Linked DNA regions of Homo sapiens: region 2 is linked to region 1. Evidence: fine-mapped expression QTL. A gene starts in region 1. The other region holds a variant in brackets. All regions are shown on one strand. Distances are from middle to middle. Region 1 holds the start of ACTN4 (actinin alpha 4). Region 2 has its middle 9.3 kb from the start of CAPN12.

The links. PIP is the estimated chance that this variant, and not a neighbour inherited with it, causes the effect. A credible set is the group of variants that fine-mapping cannot tell apart.
Region 2: its variant is the best candidate, but not a certain one, in a credible set for the expression of ACTN4 in whole blood (INTERVAL, PIP 0.67).

What each region holds. Positions count from the first base shown.
Region 1 is chr19:38,645,170-38,650,540 of GRCh38, reverse strand. ACTN4 (actinin alpha 4) reads right to left here and starts at 2,892. Exons shown (of 21, transcript NM_004924.6): 1 at 2,634-2,892. The coding sequence starts at 2,795. RefSeq lists enhancers at 210-289, 918-1,212 and silencers at 918-1,212, 1,171-1,369, 2,553-2,632, 2,863-3,052.
Region 2 is chr19:38,751,045-38,756,415 of GRCh38, reverse strand. No RefSeq gene overlaps it. Among named protein-coding and RNA genes, the nearest start is that of CAPN12, 9.3 kb to the right of the region's middle. The variant T/C (reference allele first, on the strand shown) is at 2,935.

The sequences.
Region 1 (5,371 bases):
GCAGGAGGTACTAGAATCTGGCTCTGGCTGAGACACGAAAGCAGATGGTATTAGCGGACTCTGTGAGCCACCCTTTTCCCTCAAACCTGCCCGGCCCCAGAGGAAGGGAGCTGGGAGGTAAGAGAATGACACATGGCAGCAAGGCCTGGAGGTTCTGGGGAGTCCTGGTTTCCACCCAGGGCCTGAATGGTGCCCCAGCCTCACCCTGTAGGCAAGGGACACTATAACCACGAACAAAGCCCACACCCTAACTCTCGGGAGGGAGTGAAACCCGGCTCGCAAAAGGAGTCACTTGAGGAGTGGCAGAAGACAGGAAGGGAGAGAAAAGGAAGGTCCCCCCACCCTTATCACCTGAGAAAAAAGGGGGAGGGGTTTATTTTCTCCAGCACCTTCAGCTGCAGAAGACAAAGCCTAGACATTCTCAAAACCACCACTGTGGCCCCTGCTCCCTCCCAACTTTCCAGGTCTCTTGGCAACCTTTTCCAACCTGGCACTGCCTCAGGCAATAAATTATTGTTGAGACTCCAGAACAGATCTCACCTTCCCCTCAAAAAGTGAATTTATGCCAACTATCGCAACCTGTCCATCCTGCAGTAGGTGGGGCCACGGATAAGGACACCCCTCCCACCAAGCCACTGCCATGCCCCTCAGTTACTACGGATGAGGAAATTCAAGCAACGCTGGTAATGGACCCAAGGTTATGCCCGGCCCCACCTCAGGCTGCCTTGGAACAGCTGCTCCTTCCACCCTTCCCACCCTTTCCCCTCCAGCCTGGGCTAGGCTGCCTGTGCCAAGCTCCTGGCCACCAACTCGCGCCCTCGAGAGGCTTCCAGTCACTCCCCACTCTGCCAGGTCACCACTCAAAGCCCTGTAGCCTGTTCCTGAAAAATCTCCACCAAACTCACTCTCCCAAACCTTCAGAGCCCTGTCCAAAGTCCCAACTCTACACACATCCCTCTTTATTAACAGAATCACCGCAGGGAACCCTCGGATCCCTTTGCATTTTGCAGATAACAAAACTGCCCGGAGAGTTCAAGGGTCTTGTCCAAGGCCACAGAGCGAATCAGTAACAAATCTGGAAAGAAAATCCAGATCTCCAGATCCCACGAAATGCTTCCAACTTCAAGTACCTCCCACCCATTTCACGCACAAAACTTCTGAACAACCCCTTCCCCCCACACACACCCACTCACCACGCTCCTTTCTTTAGCTCTTCCTGCACACACTCAGAGCTCCCCCCTCAACCACACTGGATTTATCCCCCCCCCACAGACACTGACACCTCGCTCGGGGATCCCACTCCACTTCTGATCACCTTTTCACTGCTGTGGGGCCCTACCAAGTTGCCCCCCCCGCCCCCCAAAAAAACAGTGCCACCTGAACACAGTCTCTGCTTCAGGATCCCTTCACCTACCTCCGGTCTCTCCAAAAAAGACACAATTCTTCCTGGACACTCTCAACGCTTCCTCCCCAAACTCATTCTGCCTGCACGACACACACACGCTCTCCAGTCCCGGGACTGCACCTCCAGGAGCCAGCACCCCCTCCTCAAATTCCTTTCTCAGTCTATCCATTACGCATTCCCTTTCTAATGAGACTTTCATTTTCCTAAACGAACCTCTCTCCCATTATCCACCATTCCAGCTCACCCTCCCTCCCACCGATCTCACCTTCTCCCTCTACACTTCCTCATTCTCTCCAACGCTTTAGCTTTTCAGCTTCCCATCAATTCTTTAGAAATCCCTCCCCAAATTATCCCCACTCTCCGTATCCCCTCTACTTCGGCTTCTCCATCCCTCATCAATTCCTCTTATTATTCCTCCTATCTCTTAATCTTCTCCCCTTTGGAACAGGGCACCACAAATAAATCTCACCCCCTTCAAAAACGTCTGATTCACGGGCCCCTTAACTTCTTCCTTCCGCACCCCACCCTCCTCAGACCCCCAGTCCTGGCACCTCTACCCTCCTCACACCCTAAGCCCATGTCTTTTCATGCTCAATTCTACCCTTAGCCCCTGTTTTCATCTTCCCAGCCTCCCTAGTCTTCCCACCCGTCTTCAGACCCCACAATCTCCACTCCATCCTCACACTTGATTCTTCATCCCCTTTATAACTCCCCCAACCTGAGGCTCCCCCAATTCCAATCTCCTTCAGATCTTTCTGCTCTCCAAATAACCAACCCCTCCACACTCAAGCTCCTCCTCACACTTCCCAGACCCAGAAATTCCCTTCTCAGCCTCCCCTGATTCTCCTCCCAGCACCCCCAACCCATGCTCCGACCCTTCAAGCCCGCCTCGGATCCCAGTTCCATTTCAGCCTGCCCAGTCATCTCCTCGGTTTCCCCTAATGGCACGCCCAGACCCTCCAAATCCTTCATCAGCCTTCCCGATTCCTTTTATTTGACTCCCATATTCCCCACCCAGCCGCCAATTCTCTTTTCAGATTCCCAATTCCTTCCTCTAGCTCGGCGATTCCTCCTCAGGACTCCAATTCCCTTCCCGGACCCGCCAATTCCTTCTCGGGACCCCCCCGTTCCCATCACAGACGCTCCAGTTACCTTTCAGGACCTCCCACCCCTCCCCGGGCCCCCTCAGAAAAGCCCCTCCAGCCCGTCCGGCCCGCGGGCCGCGCACCTTGCGCTGCTGCTTCTCCCAGGCCGGGTCCAGCAGCAGGTCCCGGTCCCAGTCGTCCTCCTGGGCCATGTAGTCGCCCATGCTGCCCCCGCCGCCAGCGCCATTGCCCGCGCTGCTGGGGCCGTACTGGTACGACTGGTTCGCCGCGTGGTAGTCCACCATTCCGCCGCCTCTCGCTCGCCCACCAGCCTGTCCGCTCCCGCCTCAGCTCCCGCCCCTCTGCCCGAGCCGCCGCCGCTACCGCCGCTTCAGCTGCTTCAGCCCGCCCTCCGCCCGCGCCTGCGCACTGCCCGCCGCGCCTGCGCACAGCGCCGAGGTTGCCGCCCTCCCGCGCGCGCGCGCCTGCCAAACCAGAAAAGGCACCAAGGCCGCGCTCCGGAGCTTGGCGCCTGCGCAGAGTCCCGCTTCCTGGCCGCCCGACTCAGCCCGGGGGCGAGCCGCGCCCCCTCTCCGGCGTGAACGCGCGCGTCGTTCGCGTATGGGCGGGGCCAGATCATGAATGATTCATAAGGGCAGGCCCCGCCATCGGACCTGAACCAGCTCAGGCTTGGAATGCACTGCACCGGGTTCCCATTCAGCGACACAAATTCAACAAATATTTATTGAACACCTATTCTGTGCCAGACTATGTTTTACGCAGGCACTAAAAACAGAAAAAAATCCCAACTTTCATGAAACTACCTTCTAGTAAAGGAAGCCACATACACACAAATCTACTTTTATTTTTATTATTTTTTGAGACGGAGTCTCGCTCTGTCTCCCAGGCTGGAGTGCAGTGGCGCGATCTCGGCTCACTGCAACCTCCGCCTCCCGGATTCAAGCAATTCTCCTGCCTCAGCCTCCCGAGTAGCTGGGAACACAGGCATGCTCCACCACACCCGGCTAATTTTTGTATTTTTTTAGTAGAGACGGGGTTTCACCATGTTGGCCAGGCTGGTCTTGAACTCTTGAGCTCAAGCGATCCTCCCGCCTCAGCCTCCCAAAGTGCTGGAATTACAGGCGTGAGCCACCGCGCCCAACCAACACACAAATTTTTTTTTTTGAGACGGAGTTTCGCTCTTGTTGCCCAGGCTGGAGTGCAATGGCGTGATCTGGGCTCACTGCAACCTCCGCCTCCCAGGTTCAAGCTATTCTCCTGCCTCAGCCTCCCGAGTAGCTGGGATCACAGGCATGTGCCACCACTCCTGGCTAATTTTGTATTTTTAGTAGAGACGGGGTTTCTCCATGTTGGTCAGGCTGGTCTCAAACTCCCGACCTCAGGTGATCCGCCCACCTCGGCCTCCCAAAGTGCTGGGCTTACAGGCATGAGCCACTGCGCCTGGCCTCAACACTCAAAATTTTAAAAAATATGTAGACAGGCACAGGGGCTCACACCTGTAATCCCAGCACTTTGGGAAGCTGAGGCGGGAGGATGGCTTGAGCCCAAGAGTTCAAGGCCAGCCTAGGCAACATAACAAGAACCTGTCTCTACAAGAAATGTAAAAATTCACTGGGCATGGCTGTGTGCACCTGTAGTCCCAGCTACTCAGGAGGCTGAGGAAGGGACATCACTTGAGCCCAGGAGTTCCAGTCTGCAGTGAGCTGTGATCACACCAATGCACTCCAGAAGCGAAATCCTGTCTCAAAAATATACATAAAAGTAAAAAATAGGTAGTATTGTATATTCCAAGGTGTTGAGTATTTGGAGAAAAATCAAGCATGGGCTGGAATGCAAATAAACTACTCAGGTAGGCTTCATGGAGAAGGCAGACATTTAAACAAAGGTGCGAGCCACTGCATCAGGAAGCATCTTAAATTTAAATATTCAGCCAGGCACTGGTGGCTTACTCTTGCAATCCCAGCACTCTGGGGAGTCAAGGCTGGAAGAGTGCTTGAGCCCAAGAGTTTGAGGCCAGACTGGGTAACATAACAAGATCTCATCTCTACAAAAAAATGTTTACATTAAAAATAAATGGCCGGGCGCAGTGGCTCATGCCTGTAATCCCAGCACTTTGGGAGGCCGAGGCAGGCAGATCACGAGGTCAGGAGTTAGAGGCCAGCCTGGCCAACATGGTGAAACCCCGTCTCTACTAAAAATACAAAAATTAGCCGGGCTTGGTGGCATGCACCTGTAATCCCAGCTACCCAGGGGGCTGAGGTAGGGGAATCACTGGAACTCGGGAGGCAGAGGCTGCAGTAAGCCGAGATCGCGCCACTGTACTCCAGCCTGGGCGACAGAGCAAGACTCCGTCTAAAATAAAAATAAAAATAAATAAATAAATATCCGGCCAGGTGTGGTGGCTCACGCCTGTAATCCCAGCACTTTGGGGGGCCGAAGTGGGCGGATCACCCCAGGTCAGGAGTTCAAGACCAGCCGGGCCAACGACTCCGTCTCTACTAAAAATACAAAATTAGCCAGGCATAGTGGCACATGCCTGTAATCCCAGCTACTCAGGAGGCTGAGGTAGGAGAATAGCTTGAACCTGGGAGACGGAGGTTGTGGTGAGCCAAGATTGCACCATTGTACTCCAGCTTGGGCAACAAGAGCGAAACTCCATCTCAAATAATAATAATAATAAATATCCAAAATAGAGTTCCTGATCTTCCCCCCAAGCTTGGTCATCCCATCCCACAGTCATCCCTCTTCAATTCGTGCACCTCCAGCCTTGCAGTTGCTGAGGCTACAGACCTTGCGGTCATCCTTAATGCCTCTTTGTCTTCACAACCCCATCCAGTTCTTCAGGAAATTCTGTCATTCC
Region 2 (5,371 bases), 110 kb before region 1:
GGTCTTGAATTCCTGAGCTCAAGCAATCCACCCACCTTGGCCTCAAAGTGCTGGGATTACAGGTTTGAGCCACCATACCCGGCCTTATATGGTTTTTTTCTTTTTTTTTTTTTTTTTTTGAGATGGAGTCTTGCTCTGTCGCCCAGCCTGGAGTGCAGTGGTGCAATCTCAGCTCACTGCAAGCTCCGCCTCCCAGGTTCACGCCATTCTCCTGCCTCAGCCTTCCGAGTAGCTGGGACTACAGGCACCCGCCACCACACCCGGCTAATTTTTTTTGTATTTTTAGTAGAGACGGGGTTTCACCACATTAGCCAGGATGGTCTCGATCTCTTGACCTCATGATCTGCCTGCCTCGGCCTCCCAAAGTGCTGGGATTATAGGCGTGGGCCACCGTGCCCAGCCTGACCTTATGTTTTAAAATAAATTAAAAGAAGAAAAGAAAAATACATTTCTGGGGCTCTTCATTTCTTCCTGTGGATTTGAGTTTCTGTCTACTGTCATTTTCAGTGTGAGGGGTTTCCTTGAGTATTCCCTGCGTTTAGGTATATGCTAGTCAGGAATTCTCTTTTTGTTTATCTGGGAATGATTTTCTTTTGCCTTTTGTTTTGAAGTATAGTTTTGTTGAATATAGAATTATCAGTTGACAGTTTTATTTTTCTTTCAGTGTTTTGAATAAATCATTCATCTGCCTTCTGGCCTCCATTGTTCCTAGGAGAATCTAGCCATTAATTCTATTGTTCCCCTGTACATAATGAGCTGTTTTTCACTTGCTCCTTTAAAATTTTCCATTTTCCTGGCACGGTGGCTCACGCCTGTAATCCCAGCACTTTGGGAGGCCAAGGAGGGTGGATCACGAGGTCAGGAGATCGAGAACATCCTGGCTAACACGGTGAAACCCCGTCTCTACTAAAAATACAGAAAATTAGCCAGGCGTGGTGGTGGGTGCCTGTAGTCCCAGCTACTCGGGAGGCTGAGGCAGGAGAATGGTGTGAACCCGGGAGATGGAGCTTATAGTGAGCCGAGATTGTGCCACTGCACTCCAGCCTGGGCGACAGAGTGAGACTCTGCCTCAAAAAAAAAAAAAAATGCCCTTTTTGAATTGTTTTCAGCAGTTTTACTTTCACTCGCGTCCGTGTGAAGAGACCACCAAACAGGCTTTGTGTAAGCAATAAAACTGTTTATTTCACCTGGGTGCAGGCGGGCTGAGTCTGAAAAGAGTCAGCGAAGGGAGATAAGGGCGGGGCTGTTTTTATAGGATTTGGGTAGATAAAGGAAAATTATAGTCAAAGGGGGGTTCTCTGGAGGGCAGAGTGGGGGTCACAAGATGCTCAGTAGGGGAGCTTTTGAACCAGGATGAGCCAGGAGAAGGAATTTGACAAGACAATGTCATCAGTTAAGGCAAGAACAGGCCATTTTCACTTCTTTTGTGGTGGAATGTCATCAGTTAAGGCAGGAACCGGCCATCTAGATGTGTACGTGCAGGTCACAGGGGATATGATGGCTTAGCTTGGGCTCAGAGGCCTGACATTCCTGTCTTCTTATATTAAGAAAAATAAAATGAAATAGTAGTAAAGTGTTGGGACAGTGAAAATTTTTGGGGGTGGTATGGAGAGATAATGGGTGATGTTTCTTAGGGCTGCTTCCAGCGGTATTAGGGGCGGCGTGGGAACTTAGAGTGGGAGAGATTAAGCTGAAGGAAGATTTTGTGGTAAAGGGTGATATTGTGGGGTTGTTAGAAGAAACATTTGTCGTGTAGAATGATTGGTGATGGCCTGGATACGGTTTTGTATGAATTGAAAAACTAAACGGAATAAGAGAAGGAGAAAAACAGGTATTAAAGGACTAAGAATTGGGAGGACCTAGGACATCTAATTAGAGAGTGCCTAAGGAGGTTCAGCATAGCCTTGCCAGCAAAGATTATTTATTTACTTCAAGAGTTAAGAGTGGCAGTTTGGGGATAGCACGAGGAGATATCAGCTGTGATGGCTTGGAGAAACTGTGTAAACTGGCAGTGTAAACAAGAGCAGGGCATGCATGAGTAGTTGAGAACGGTGAATAGGAGTATGACTAGACAGAAGATAGTAGGGATGACAAGTTATTTGGGGGCACAGTCTAAGTTGGTCTGGTGTCTGGAATGAGACTGGGGCCTAATAAAAAGGAGTGTCTATACAGGAACTTAAATGGGCTGTATCTTGTAGCATTCTGAGGACAGGCCTGAATTCTGAGAAGCGAAAGTGGTAAAAATATTGTCCAGTCCTTTTTAAGTTGGTGGCTGAGGTTGGTGAGGTGTGTTTTAGTCTGTCACTGAATACTAAGAGCCTGAAAAAATGCTTGGCTGATTTGACAAATAAAGGCTGGTCTGTTATCAGACTGTATAGAGGTGGGAAGGCTAAATTGAGGAATTACGTCTGACAGAAGGGAATGATAAGGCTAAACTGAAGAATTATGTCTGACAGAAGGGAAGAAATGACTGTGGTGGCCTTCTCAGACCCTGTAGGAAAGGACTCTACTTATCCAGTGAAAGTGTCTACCTAGACTAAGAGGTGTTTTAGTTATCTTACTCGGGGCATGTTGAGTAAAGCTAATTTGCCAGTCCTGGGTGGGGGCAAATCCTCGAGTTGATGTGTAGGGAAGGGAGGGGGCTTGAATAATCCATGAGGAGTAGTAGAATAGCAGATGGAACACTGAGAATTTATTTCTTTGAAGATAGATTTCCACAATGGAAAGGAAGTGAGAGGTTCTAAGAGGCAGGCTAGTGGCTTGTACTATAGCATAGCCTGCCTTTGCTGGTGTGTGGCGATTAGGCCTGGTGGAACTGCCATCAATAAATCAAGCGTGATCAGGGTGAGGAACAGGGAAGAAGGAAATGTGGGGAAATGGGATGAATGTCAGGTGGATCAGAGAGATGCCGTCATGGGGGTCAGGTGTGGTATC[T/C]GGAATAATGTGGGAGGCCGGATTGAAGTCCGGGCCAGGAACAATGGTCATTGTGGGACTTAACAAAGAGTGAGTACAGCTGAAGGAGCCAGGGAGCAGAAAGTATATGCGTCAGGTGTGAGGAAGAAAATAGATTTTGGAAATTATGAGAGCTGTAGAGAGTGAGTTGAGCATAGTTTGTGATTTTGAGGGCCTCTAAAAGTGTTAAAGCAGCGGCACGCGCTGCACGGAGACATGAGGGCTAGGCTAAAACAGTAAGGTCAAGTTGTTTGGGCAGAAAGGCTACAGGGTGCGGGCCTGGCTCTTGTGTAATAATTCTGACCGAACTAACCATGCCTAGGAAGGAAAGGAGTTGTTGTTTTGTAAGGGATCGAGGTTTGGGAGATTAATCGGACACAAGCAGCAGGGAGAGCACGTGTGTTTTTATGAGAATTATGCCAAGATAGGTAACAGATGAGGATGAAATTTGGGCTTGACTGAAGTAATGGGGTCTGTCTGTGAAGCCTTGAGGCAGTACAGCCCAGGTAATTTGCTGAGCCTGATTGGTGTCAGGGTCAGTCCAAGTGAAAGCAAAGAGAGGCTGGGATGACAGGTGCAAAGGAATAGGAAAGAAAGCATGTTTGAGGTCCAGAACAGAATAATGGATTGTGGAGGGAGGTACTGAGGATAGGAGAGTATATGGGTTTGGCACCACAGGGTGGATAGGCAAAACAATTTGGTTGATAAGGCGCAGATCCTGAATTAACCTGTAAGTCTTGTCTGGTTTTAGGACAGGTAAAATGGGGGAATTGTAAGGAGAGTTTATAGGCTTTAAAAGGCCATGCTGTAACAGGCGAGTGATAACAGGCTTTAATCCTTTCAAAGCATGCTGTGGGATGGGATATTGGCATTGAGCGGGGTAAGGGTGATTAGATTTTAATGAGATGGTAAGGGGTGCATGATTGGTCGCCAAGGAGGGAGTAGAGGTATCTTATACCTTTGGGTTAAGGTGGGGGGATACAAGAGGAGGATGCAAAGGAGGCTTTGGATTGGGAAGAAGGGCGGCAATGAGATGCAGCTGTAATCCAGGAATAGTCAGGGAAGCAGATAATTTGAAGTGTCTCGGCCTAATTAGGGAACTGGGCAGGTGGAGATAACTAAAAGGAGTGCATAAAAGAATATTGTCTAAGTTGGCACCAGAGTTGGGGAGTTTTAAGAGGTTTAGAAGCCTGGCTGTCAATACCCACTACAGTTATGGAGGCAAGGGAAACAGGCCTTTGAAAAGAAGGTAATGTGGAGTGGGTAGCCTCCGTATTGATTAAGAAGGGGACGGACTTACCTTCCACTGTGAGAGTTACTTAAAGCTTGGTGTCCGTGATGGTCTACGGGGCTTCCGAGGCAATCGGGCAGCATCAGTCTTCAGCTGCTAAGCCGAGAAGATCTGGGAAGGAGTCAGTCAGAGAGCCTTGGGCCAGAGTTCCAGGGGCTCTGGGAGTGGCTGCCAGGTGAGTTGGACAGTCCGATTTCCAGTGGGGTCCTGCACAGATGGGACACGGCTTAGGAGGAATCCTGGGCTGCGGGCATTCCTTGGCCTGGTGGCCAGATTTCTGGCACTTGTAGCAAGCTCCTGGGGGAGGCGGTTCTGGAGGAACGCCTGGCCACTGCGGTTTAGGCGTTTGGAGGTTCTTTTGTGCTGGAGATGTGGCTGAGGTTTGTCTCACAGTGGAGGCAAGGAATTGCAACTCAGAAATATGTTGCTACTTGGCTGCCTCTATTATTGTACACCTTGAAGGCGAGGTTAATTAAGTCCTGTTGTGGGGTTTGAGGGCCGGAATTTAATTTTTGGAGTTTTATTTAATGTCGGGAGCAGATTGGGTAATAAAATGTATATTGAGAATAAGACGGCCTTTTGACATTTTAGGGTCTAGGGCTGTAAAGTGTCTCAGGGTTGCTGCCGAACGAGCCATGAACTGGGCTGGATTTTTATATTTGATGAAAAAGAGCCTAAACACTATCTGATTTGGGATAAAGGAAAAGGAGCATTAACCTTGACTATGCCTTTAGCTCCAGCCACCTTTTTAAGAGTAAATTGCTGGGCAGGTGGGGAAGGGCTAGTCACGGAACGAAACTGTAAGGGGGACCGGGTGTGAGGAGGGGAGGCGATAAAAGGATTATAGGGTGGAGGAGCGGAGGCTGAGGAAGAATTGGGACCTAGCTCAGCCTAGCAAGGAGGGGAGAGGTCAGATAGGTCTGTAGAAAAGGAAGATTAGAAAGACTCAGTGACACTTGGGGTTGGGACTGAGGGGACAGGTGGGAGGGAAAGAAGGAAGATTTGGGACGAGTTGCATTGGGAACAGAGGCTAGGGAGAGCCTGATGTGTAAAAGAATGCCTGGATGTCAGGCACCTCACACCATTTGCCTATTTTATGATAAGAATTATTTAGATCTTGTAGGATGG